Regions from separate parts of the Homo sapiens genome. Here region 1 is linked to region 2. Evidence: fine-mapped expression QTL. A gene starts in region 2. The other region holds a variant in brackets. All regions are shown on one strand. Distances are from middle to middle. Region 1 overlaps CD163 (CD163 molecule). Region 2 holds the start of P3H3 (prolyl 3-hydroxylase 3).

Region 1 (5,370 bases), 670 kb before region 2:
TTTTCACATAGCTAATATCCTGTGATTTTGTGCAAGTTGTCAAATCTCTCTAAACTTCAGTTTCTGAGGATTCAATGATATAATACATGTAAAACTACTGGTACACTGTTTGGTATGTAACAGGTGCTGAAGATCCTCATGGCTCAGTTCTCTTGGTGACTCAGTTCTCTTTCTTCTTTCTCCGCTTCCTCTTCCTCTTCCTTCTCCTCCTTCTCCTCCTTCTTTCCTCTTATTTTTAACCACTATGGGAGGTGTGAAATGGGGAATAACAAAAGTAACATCTACTGCAAAGTTTAAAATTATCATAAATTTTAGCAGGCTCTTATCATAATTATTGCTGTGTATAGAACTGGCTGTTTAGCTAAAACAGTGTAGTACTTTTAGCTCTTTTTTTCTGTTGTTTTATAACTACCAGTGGAGTTAATCAATTTGCTTTTTGAAATTTATACACTTAAAGCTTTAACCTGAGTCAAATTTAAATAACTTGAGTCGAATTTATCTATTTCTGTACAAAAAAGAGTATTTACATCTGTCCTAGTAATAGATGGAAACAAAACAAAACAGAAAGTTTAAAAACTTTAACCTGTAAACATTTTCCTTTGTAAGTAGATATAGATAAAAATCCTAATTGCTTCCTAGATTTTAACATATTAAAATTCTCTACCGTGTGGAGCTGGGCAATGTCCAAAATCAGGCACCATTTTAAGGACAACATAAAATCCCAAGTGTCCAGAGGAAACTTCTTTTCTAAAATCACTTCTAAATGAATGTAACTTCTGAACTCTGGTCTTTTCTCTGCTCCAGATGGATCCAATTTGGAAATGAGGCTGACGCGTGGAGGGAATATGTGTTCTGGAAGAATAGAGATCAAATTCCAAGGACGGTGGGGAACAGTGTGTGATGATAACTTCAACATAGATCATGCATCTGTCATTTGTAGACAACTTGAATGTGGAAGTGCTGTCAGTTTCTCTGGTTCATCTAATTTTGGAGAAGGCTCTGGACCAATCTGGTTTGATGATCTTATATGCAACGGAAATGAGTCAGCTCTCTGGAACTGCAAACATCAAGGATGGGGAAAGCATAACTGTGATCATGCTGAGGATGCTGGAGTGATTTGCTCAAGTAAGGACTGATCTTGGCTCATTCTATTCTCCAGGAGAGGACAAAAGAAAGGGGTAATAAATCTTAAGAGCCTGAACTCTTAAGAACATAATGAAGTCTGCTTCTTTTGTCACCGCATTTTAACCTAACTTCAGGTTCCAGTTCTGATACCTGTGGACTTTTTACCTTAACTGAAATTAGGAGAAATAGGTTAGGGAAGTGCATAGTGAAACTGAGATCCAGGTCATAAGAAAAGAAGAAAGTGTTTAGGAAAAGCCCATAAAGAAAGGGAGAGACCGAAAAGAAAAAGAGGGGAAAAAGGAAAGAAGGAAGGGCTTTACTAGGATATTTTGCACTATGAAGTTTTATGACCAAACCACTCCAGTTATCATCTAATCCACAAAAGCCTCCTCATTAGCCTCATTAACCCACTCCTTCCCAAATCATTTTTCAAGTTCACAGAATCGAATCACTTGTTAAAAATCAATATTGGTTTCTCATTAAAACTTTATTTATACTAGATATGCATTGTATCTGTCTAGAGACTTTCACGTTGTATACTCAGACTGGGGGCGGGGAAAATCGTTTGTGTGTGCAGAGATACCACTCTTCGTTTTTCTGTTGAATTCTTAGTATAAAAGGAGATTGAGTGTGTCTTGAACCCCAGAGAACACTTAGGAAAATAAGAGTAAAAAATCCCTATCTTCACCAGATCCCTTTCTCTCTCTCTCTCTCTCTCTCTGTGTGTGTGTGTGTGTGTGTGTAAATAAAGGAACTTCCATTCAAACTTGTTTAAAAAGAAGAGAATACTGGCTCACAAAACTGGGAAATCCAGAGGGTATAGTTAGCCTCATGCATGGTTGGATTCAGGTTCTTGAACAATGTCATCTGGGTTCTATCTCTTTCTGCATGTCTTGAACAAGCTTTTTCTTGTTGAACAATGTG[A/C]TCAGCTATAGCCTGAACCACAATGAATGGAACTCCTACAAGAAAGATAGATTTTGTTAGGTTAAGAATGTGAAGAATTTGGAGTAGAAAAAACACAGACTGTACCTTCCATTCTCTTTTACCCATCAACATTTCTCTAGGCCCCCAGTTAGCACATGCTGACGAATCACAATCCCACAATGAATAACATTGTGGGAATGAAAACGGAAACTGCCAGAGGAAACAACCAGTTTAATTTATTACAGAATATTCTTCAGAATCAACGTCTGTTCTTTGAAGAATATTGATTTGGGGAAGGTGAAAATTGTAGTACTGAAGCCTCCTTTCTCTTTGCTCTGCTTTTAAACTAAGGAAGTGGTCACAACAGGTTCAGGTGTACAACACAGGCTAGGTAGTATCAATGGAGAATGCAGTCAGAGGCAAAAGGGATTGCTAAGTATGGAGGCAAACTGAAGGATGAGGGAGTCACCTAAACACATGCAAATATATTTTAACCAGAAAAAGTAAACAGTTCTAACAAGAACTCTGTGGTGGTCAAATAGCAGGTCTCTAGATGAAATTCAGTCCCTGTATCTCCTGTTAGAAACACTTCCTGTAGTATATGCTGTCTATACTGAGATGTCCCATCTTCTTGCCTGATCCACTCCTCCTTCCATCTTGAATGATTTCCAGTGGTAGTACAGTACATCACAGTTTTCTCTGTCTCCACTTATATCTCTCCCCTTTTCCTTAACTCATCTCAGGTATAGCTATTTATAGTCTCATGTTCTTGCTTCCTTATCGCAGACCTGTTGTGTGTCTCTGTTACAGAGGGAGCAGATCTGAGCCTGAGACTGGTAGATGGAGTCACTGAATGTTCAGGAAGATTAGAAGTGAGATTCCAAGGAGAATGGGGGACAATATGTGATGACGGCTGGGACAGTTACGATGCTGCTGTGGCATGCAAGCAACTGGGATGTCCAACTGCCGTCACAGCCATTGGTCGAGTTAACGCCAGTAAGGGATTTGGACACATCTGGCTTGACAGCGTTTCTTGCCAGGGACATGAACCTGCTATCTGGCAATGTAAACACCATGAATGGGGAAAGCATTATTGCAATCACAATGAAGATGCTGGCGTGACATGTTCTGGTAAGTTAAAACCAAACCAAAACCAAAACACTAAACAAAAAGAAAAGCAGAAACGGAAAGTCCTGTGCTCCTTAAGAGTAGGAACGTGCTCCTTAAGAAGTAGAAATGCCTAGTAAATTCCTTGCTGGGAATTCCTTTATACCTGTAATCTTTGACACATTCTTTATTCAACTAGTTTGGAAGGTTGTCTGACGGCATTCTCTGTAATAATTACTCAGACTGCTTTTATGGAGCACACTTCAAACTCAGAATCTACCTGGAGCTCAGAGAGACAAAATTTCCTAGGAATCTGTTTTTAAATTTTTTTAATTTACTTATTTTTTTACTTTAAGTTCTGGGATAGATGTGTTGAATGTGCAGGTTTGTTACATGGGTAAACATGTTCCATGGTGGTCTGCTTCACGTATCAACCTGTCATCTAGGTTTTAACCCCCCATGCATTAGGTATTTGTCCTAATGCTCTCCCTCCCCTTTCCCCCCACCCATTGACAGGCCCCAGTGTGTGATGTTCCCCTCCCTGTGTCCGTGTGTTCTCATTGTTCAACTCCCAGTTATGAGTGAGAACATGCAGTGTTTGGTTTTCTGTTCTTGTGTGTTAGTTTGCTGAGGATGATGGTTTCTAGCTTCATCTGTGTCCCTTCAAAGGACATAAACTCATTCTTTTTTATGGCTGCGTAGTATTCCATGGTGTATATGTACCACATTTTCTTTATCCAGTCTATTATTGATGGGCATTTGGGTTGGTTCCAAGTCTTTGTTATTGTAGATAGTGCTGCAATAAACATACATGTGCATGTGTCTTTATAGTAGAATGATTTATAATCCTTTGGGTATATACCCAGTAATGGGATCGCTGGGTCAAATGGTATTTCTAGTTCTAGATCCTTGAGGAATCACCACACTGTCTTCCATAATGGTTGAACTAATTTACACTCCCACCAACAGTGTAAAAGCTTTCCTATTTCTCTACATCCTTGCCAACATCTGTTGTTTCCAGACTTTTTAATGATCGCCATTCTAACTGGGATGAGATGGTATCTCATTGTGATTTTGATTTGCATTTCTCTAATGACCATTGTTGATAAGCTATTTTTCATATGTTTGTTGTCCGCATAAATGCCTTCTTTTCAGAAGTGTCTGTTCATACCCTTCACCCACTTTTTGAGGAATCTCTTTTAAAGCTGAATTGCTCATATCTTTCTGCCATTGACAATTTTTATCAACCCTTGAAACTACAGTCCCATTTCTAACAAAAATTTATGGTCTATATTATTGTTTCTTAAAAAGTCAGGAAATAAGTTACCTATAATTTTCAATGCATCAGTATCAGAGAAGAAAAAAGACAAAAAAAAATCCTCTGGAAGCTAACCTCCATATGTATCGATGGTTTAAGTTTATGTTTCTTTTGCAGATGGATCAGATCTGGAGCTAAGACTTAGAGGTGGAGGCAGCCGCTGTGCTGGGACAGTTGAGGTGGAGATTCAGAGACTGTTAGGGAAGGTGTGTGACAGAGGCTGGGGACTGAAAGAAGCTGATGTGGTTTGCAGGCAGCTGGGATGTGGATCTGCACTCAAAACATCTTATCAAGTGTACTCCAAAATCCAGGCAACAAACACATGGCTGTTTCTAAGTAGCTGTAACGGAAATGAAACTTCTCTTTGGGACTGCAAGAACTGGCAATGGGGTGGACTTACCTGTGATCACTATGAAGAAGCCAAAATTACCTGCTCAGGTATGACTTTCAATCAACTTGTTAAGAAGAAGGGTGTAAATTTCCAGTACTACCTTTGAAATTGAAAAGAAACATTGGTCCTTATGACTAGATCACTCTCAAGAAACCAGGAAATATCTACACAAATTCCACTGGGAGAGTCAGATAAGTTTACAATTCATGTTGCACTTTAGATAGAAGTGTTTGGGTTTTGCTCACTTTGGTTTTTGAGTAATTTTTAGATCAATAGAGGTATAAGATTAAGGAGGATTAAAATTTAAAAAATAGAATTCAATATTTCTTTCACAGGATGTCACCAAAAGATTTAAAAAATAACCATGTTAGATAAACTGACATAACCTTCAGCTCCCTCTATTGTACTGTGAAAGAATTTTCTTTTTTTTTGGAAAACCTGTGAATATTTCACTGCAACCTCTTTAAAAAGCTCAAAAATGAGTTGTAAACTGGTTAGGTTTGTG
Region 2 (5,341 bases):
GGAGGGATAGAGAGATGGAGCTCAGGATAGCAGCAGAGGCAAATCTTCACTCCCCGTTTCCACCCTTCCCCAACTGACCCTGAGCATGGGCCTCATGTAGCCGCCTCAGCTGGTTGGGAAGGAAGTCTGGGACAGGGAAGCTGCGACCAGGGCGTGTGGCTGTTTCCCCCACACAGCGTTGCCGGCACTGCAGGACCTGAATCCAGTGTCCTGCAGAGGAAACCCATAAGCCATTCAGCTTGTTCATGCCCCTCCCTGGGCACCGACCCACCCCCTCACACACGGGACCCTTACCTGCAATGGCCTCATAGAGGCCCCCCTGGCTCGCAGCCCCATCCTCCTCTTCTTCAGCCCCCTGCTGCTCCTCAGGCCCCTCACAGTCAGCACGGCAGCTCTCCATCTGGGCCAGGCTCCCCTGAAGAGCCTCCTCTAGCCTGGGCAGTGCCAGTCCTGCCTCCTGGCGCCCCAGTAGCTCCAGGCCAGTGTCATAGGCTGCCTGTTGGGGAAGGGAGCAGTCAGTCACCTAAGATCCAGGGGTTGCCAAACTGGGAGGTAGAGAGGAGAGGGGTGTTGGTCTCATTTGGGGCAAGGACTCCATGTCCCTCTTCACCGTGGAGAAGAATAAGGGTGGGCCTCAGAATCATAATGTTAGAACATCAGATTTCAGTGATCATCCAGGAAGGAAACGAAGTCCTAGAGAAGGACTCCCAGCCAGGGTCGCTGAGGATCATTACCCCATCTGTATGCTCAAGCAGCACAACGCACAGTTTAGTGAGGCCTGTGTATCCAGCCAGGAAAAGGCTGGTGGCAAGACAGGGGTGGTGCTGGGATTCTCACCCAGTGTGGGGGCGTCTCCAGGTCCCGGAAGCTCTGGGGCCGAACTCCCGACATTCGTCTGTACTTAGCCATGTCCTCCCGCATCTGCAGGTGCATGGGGTTTGCTACAAAGAAGGTGTGTGCTGCCGCAGCTGCCAGATCCAGCTTCTTCAACTGAGGAGGCGAAGGGAGGAGGGCATCAGAGCCCTGGGACGGGGGGCAGACCTCTGCCCCCTGGCCAGCCTCCCCACCCTACCCCAGACACACACTCTGGGTGCCCCAGAGCCTCATGGAAGACTGGCCAATCAGAACCGCCCACCGCCCGAACTGCAGATCCCCTAGAGGCCAGAACGTTGGGACTCTCAGAAGGCTGGCACCGAGGGAAAGGGGATCTAAAGACGTCGGAGTTGGGTGGGACATGGGTCTCAGGACTTCAGGACCTCAATTTGGGAGACCAGGTGGAAGTGATGGCTTAAGTGAGGTGGGGAAGTGGGGGAGACCTCAGCGACCAGCAAAACCCGCAGGTCTCTAGGACCCTGAGCTGAGGTGAGTACAACCGGCGCCCCGCTTCCCCAGCCACGTAGGCAACTGCTGCGGTACCGGCGGCTGCGGCGTGCTGTCCCCTCCCCGCCCGCAGAGGTCTGGCCTCGGAGGACCCCAACCTTGCCTCCGTCTGCTCCTTCCTTTCCGAAGCTACCTCCTGCCCCAAGCGAAGGTTCACACTCACCACCACCCCCGACACACACACACACCCACGCACACTTCCCGTCCGAGAGCCGGTTTCGCCCCCACCGCCTCCGCTTCATTCCTAGGAAGAGGCGGCCCTGTCCCTCCATCTTCGATCTGCTCCCGTCCCACCTCACGACCTCCCCGCCCCATTCCCATTCTGCTCGCACTCCCCCTCGGCTGCTCCTCTGCGATCTCAAGAGGTCCTCGCGGTCGCTTAGCCAGCTCCTACGCAGAGGCCCGCGGTACGCTCCCCAGCCCCGTGCGGGGCCCGGGCAACAGCATTCCGCCTACTCCTGGGCAACGCAAAGTAGGACAGCGTCGTGGTGAGGGCTGGGACCCTCGGAGCTGCCCGGCCCGCTCCCCACCTGGTAATAGGCCCTCTGCAGGTAGTTGTAGGGCTCCCGACGGCGGAAGGCGTCCCGGAGCGCGCTCCCCACGCGAAGCCGCGCCGCGCCCCCGGGGCCCAGCCTCCGTGCTGCGCACTGGGTCAGGCAGTCTGCGCGGCGGAGCGCTGCACGGAGAAGCTGTCGCTCCCAGGACCCCTGCGTGGGTCCCGGCCCGGAGTCGGGCTCCGGGGCCCCGAGAAGCACGGCGGGGAGCGCGGCGCCCGGATCGGCCGCGCAGCTCGCCCCGCAATCCAGCCGCACCCGGCCCAGCGCCGCCTGGCTCCGCAGCGCCTCCCGCAGCAGCGCCACGGCCGGCGCCCAAGCCCCGGCCGCGTAGGCGCGCAGCCCGTCAGCGTAGAGCAAGTCGGGGGCCTGCGGGGGCGCCCCCGGGGACAGCTGGGTCAGGCCGGGGGGCTCAGGGGACCCCGGGGGAGGCAGCAGCAGCAGTAGCAGCAGCGGCCGGAGGAGCCGGAGCATGATGTCGGAGCCGCCGGCAGCCGAGGGGAAATGCGGGAGCCGAGAGGGAGGGAGAGGAAAGGGGGGAAGGGGAGGGAGGGGGAGGAAGGAGAGATGGAGAGGCGGAGGGAGAGGGAGAAATAATGAGGGAGGCCGAGAGAGAGAGAGAGAGAGAAGATGGGGCTGAGACCCGATGGTGGGAGAGGCCCATGTGAAAAGATGGAGAGAGAAGAGTGCTGAGTGGACAAAGCTGGTCTAGTGTGGAATAAGAGGGAGAAACTGGGAGGAGGAGGGCAAAAGGCGGGAACTGGAGCAGGCCTGGGCATCCATGAAGGATGACTTCAGCCCCAGCGGTGACTTCAGCCCCTGAGGTCTGGGGGTAACTACTGGGGCTGTGTTCCCTCCACACACACGCTTCTGGGTCCAGAAAAAGGAGTGTGGACGCCGATCCCCCCCTCGCCCCCCCCCACCCCCCCACACTCATCCACCCCTGCACTCCCACCCCCCCACACTCATCCACCCCTGCACTCCCACCCCCCCCACACACTCATCCACCCCTGCACTCCCCCACACACACACTCATCCACCCCTGCACTCCCACCCCCGCCCACACACACACTCATCCACCCCTGCACTCCTTTGGAGAAAGAGCTTTAAAATGCAGCAAGGAGGAGGTGTCCAGGCCCGGGACACTGCATCAGCCCCAAAACCTTTCCTGCCCATAAAGTGAGCCCCTGCATGGATTTGAGGTTAGAAGGAGAGTTGGGCACTGGGGCTGGAGCCACGCTCTAAAACCACCTCAACAAATCTGAACAGAGATCCTTCATACCCCAACCAACGAAGATGTGTGTCCTCAAGCCCCGCCCCCAGCAGGATATGCTCCTCCCAGCCTTCCCTGTGCGAGGCTGCCTGGTGGAGCATGTGATCATTTCTCCATGTGTCCTTCTGTGCCTCTGTCTGCTGCCCCTGCTCTGTCGTGTCCCCTGTGAGCCACTCCACCCTCCAAGCCCCTTTCCACCGCAGTACACTGGACACTGAGGTTTCCATGGCAACACTTCAGACTTTAATACATATTGCTAGGGGTGATGGAAGCTGAGTAGGGCATCTGGTCACTTGGATGGGAGAGAGCAGGGCCTTCTGAGCCCCAAATCTAGCGCCCGTCTCCCCAGAGTCTGGAGGCAGCTGCCCTACTCTCGGCCAGAATGAGGTGTTACTCACTCAGGCTTTCTCCTCTGAGTTCAGCAGGCCTGCTTGGGCTCACAGGGTCAGCTGGGGAAAGATGGGGTTGCCTGGGCCCCAGGATCCTCCCCAAGCCCTTGCACTTTCTTCACCCCCCGTCAGGGAGCAGCGTCTCCCTGCGCTTAGTCCCAAAGGAAGTCCAACGGCTCTGCTCTCAGGGGACCCAAGGGAGAGTCGGCGGGGTGAGAGGCCCAGTGGCCGGGGCCGACGAGGAGAGTGCCCTGGTGAGGCAGTCGGAGAAGGCAGAGGTGTCTCATCGATGAAGGTGGTGATCTCCTCCCGGAAGAAGCCAGGACCCCGTGGGGGTCCCCCACCTGACCCCAGAACCCCACTCTCCAAGAATTGGCGAAGGCTGGCCAGCCCCCCACCTTCAGCCTCTTCCTCGTCCTCCTCGTCCTCCAACCTGTGTCTTTGTCCCAGGTACTCAGGAGGACCCCCGAGGGCCCGGCTCTGGGCTGGGAGGACCCGGATGTCATCAGAGGATGACCACTTGTGCAGGAAGGAGCCTGGTTCCCGAGGGGTAGAGAAGATGTTTGTCTCATCATGGGACAGACGCCGGGATAGGGGGACCTGGGAAGAGGAGCGGGTAAGACCTGAAGGTGCTGCAGGGACAGAGGCAGAGGCAGGAACCAAGTGGGGACTCCGGAAGATGGTGCCACCTTCTTAACCTTCAAAACGTTTGCTCCGGTGGGCAAACCTGGCCCCACGAGGTCTGAAGGGATGCCTCTCTTGCTATAGCTTTCTTTCACCCAGCTCTATGGTGCCCTGAAAGCCAGGGCTAGGGAAGAGGGGATTGGGGTGCCTAACAGACACTGGAGAAAAGTGATGAGCGGCACCAAGGGTAGGAGATGTATCCCCCAGTTCCATACCTGTAAGTAGTGGACTCTCTCAAGAGGAGGGAAGAGCATGTGCCTTCCAGGCAGCAGCTTCACCTGGGCGGGGTCCCGGCTCCCTGGTCCTGTGGCTCCGTTAGCATCAAAGCGAACTTTGCAAACTCGGCCCTCTGCATAGTCGTCACAGCCCCCATCTAGGAGAGAAAATGGGCAGAGTGGTTACAGGTAGGGAATGCCTACCGCGGCCTCCCACCACTGCCTTTATAAGCTCCCAGAGACCCCTTTAGTTCCCATTAGCATGTATGTTCCAAGAGGACAGTGAGAGTGGCTAGCATTTGCTGCGTTCAGTGCTAAATCCTGAGTGGAGTGCTTCATACATATAGATGAAGTTATTGAAACAATTGCCTGCACTCCCCCAAGAGCCGTCCCTATAGCTGGGGGGCCTCTCTCGGGAAGCTCAGGTTCCCCATAGTGCCAGAGCTGGGCAGTGTGGGTTTCTGGAGGGGAGCCTAGGCCCAGTGAAGGGAGCCCTGAGTGCTGCGGGAAGCAGTGAGTGGACAGCAGGGTGCCTGCTTAGGGAAAGGGGAGCCCAGGGTGGTGCAGATTCTGTCCAGTAGGGGGCACTCCAGGGCAGCCCATCCTCTGGCTGAGAAGGAGCGGCAGAAAAGGGAATAGACAGATGTCCAGGAAAGCCAAAGCCCAGCCCCTCCTCTGACCGTCATCTCCATCCTCCTCAGACATGATGGCCACGCATTGCTCCCACACTGTGCGCACGTCGGCGCGGTAGCGCTCGCAGGACCAGATGAAGGAGGGCAGCAGCAGCGTCTGTGCCATGGAGCACCACAGCACAGCCAGCACCATCCAGGGGGGCGCCGAGTCCGA

The links. PIP is the estimated chance that this variant, and not a neighbour inherited with it, causes the effect. A credible set is the group of variants that fine-mapping cannot tell apart.
Region 1: its variant is the best candidate, but not a certain one, in a credible set for the expression of P3H3 in nucleus accumbens (GTEx, PIP 0.73).

What each region holds. Positions count from the first base shown.
Region 1 is chr12:7,494,623-7,499,992 of GRCh38, reverse strand. CD163 (CD163 molecule) reads left to right here. Exons shown (of 17, transcript NM_203416.4): 4 at 805-1,125; 5 at 2,860-3,180; 6 at 4,592-4,912. LOC124902870 (a long non-coding RNA gene) reads right to left here. Exons shown (of 2, transcript XR_007063197.1): 2 at 4,739-4,965. Among named protein-coding and RNA genes, the nearest start is that of CD163, 6.5 kb to the left of the region's middle. RefSeq lists an enhancer at 1,944-2,445. The variant A/C (reference allele first, on the strand shown) is at 2,050.
Region 2 is chr12:6,825,508-6,830,848 of GRCh38, reverse strand. P3H3 (prolyl 3-hydroxylase 3) reads right to left here and starts at 2,442. Exons shown (of 15, transcript NM_014262.5): 1 at 1,911-2,442; 2 at 838-990; 3 at 295-496; 4 at 79-210. The coding sequence starts at 2,408. GPR162 (G protein-coupled receptor 162) reads right to left here. Exons shown (of 5, transcript NM_019858.2): 3 at 5,176-5,341; 4 at 4,496-4,653; 5 at 3,428-4,196. The coding sequence ends at 3,645. RefSeq lists enhancers at 975-1,510, 1,760-1,819, 1,558-2,059, 3,217-3,785 and a silencer at 1,970-2,079.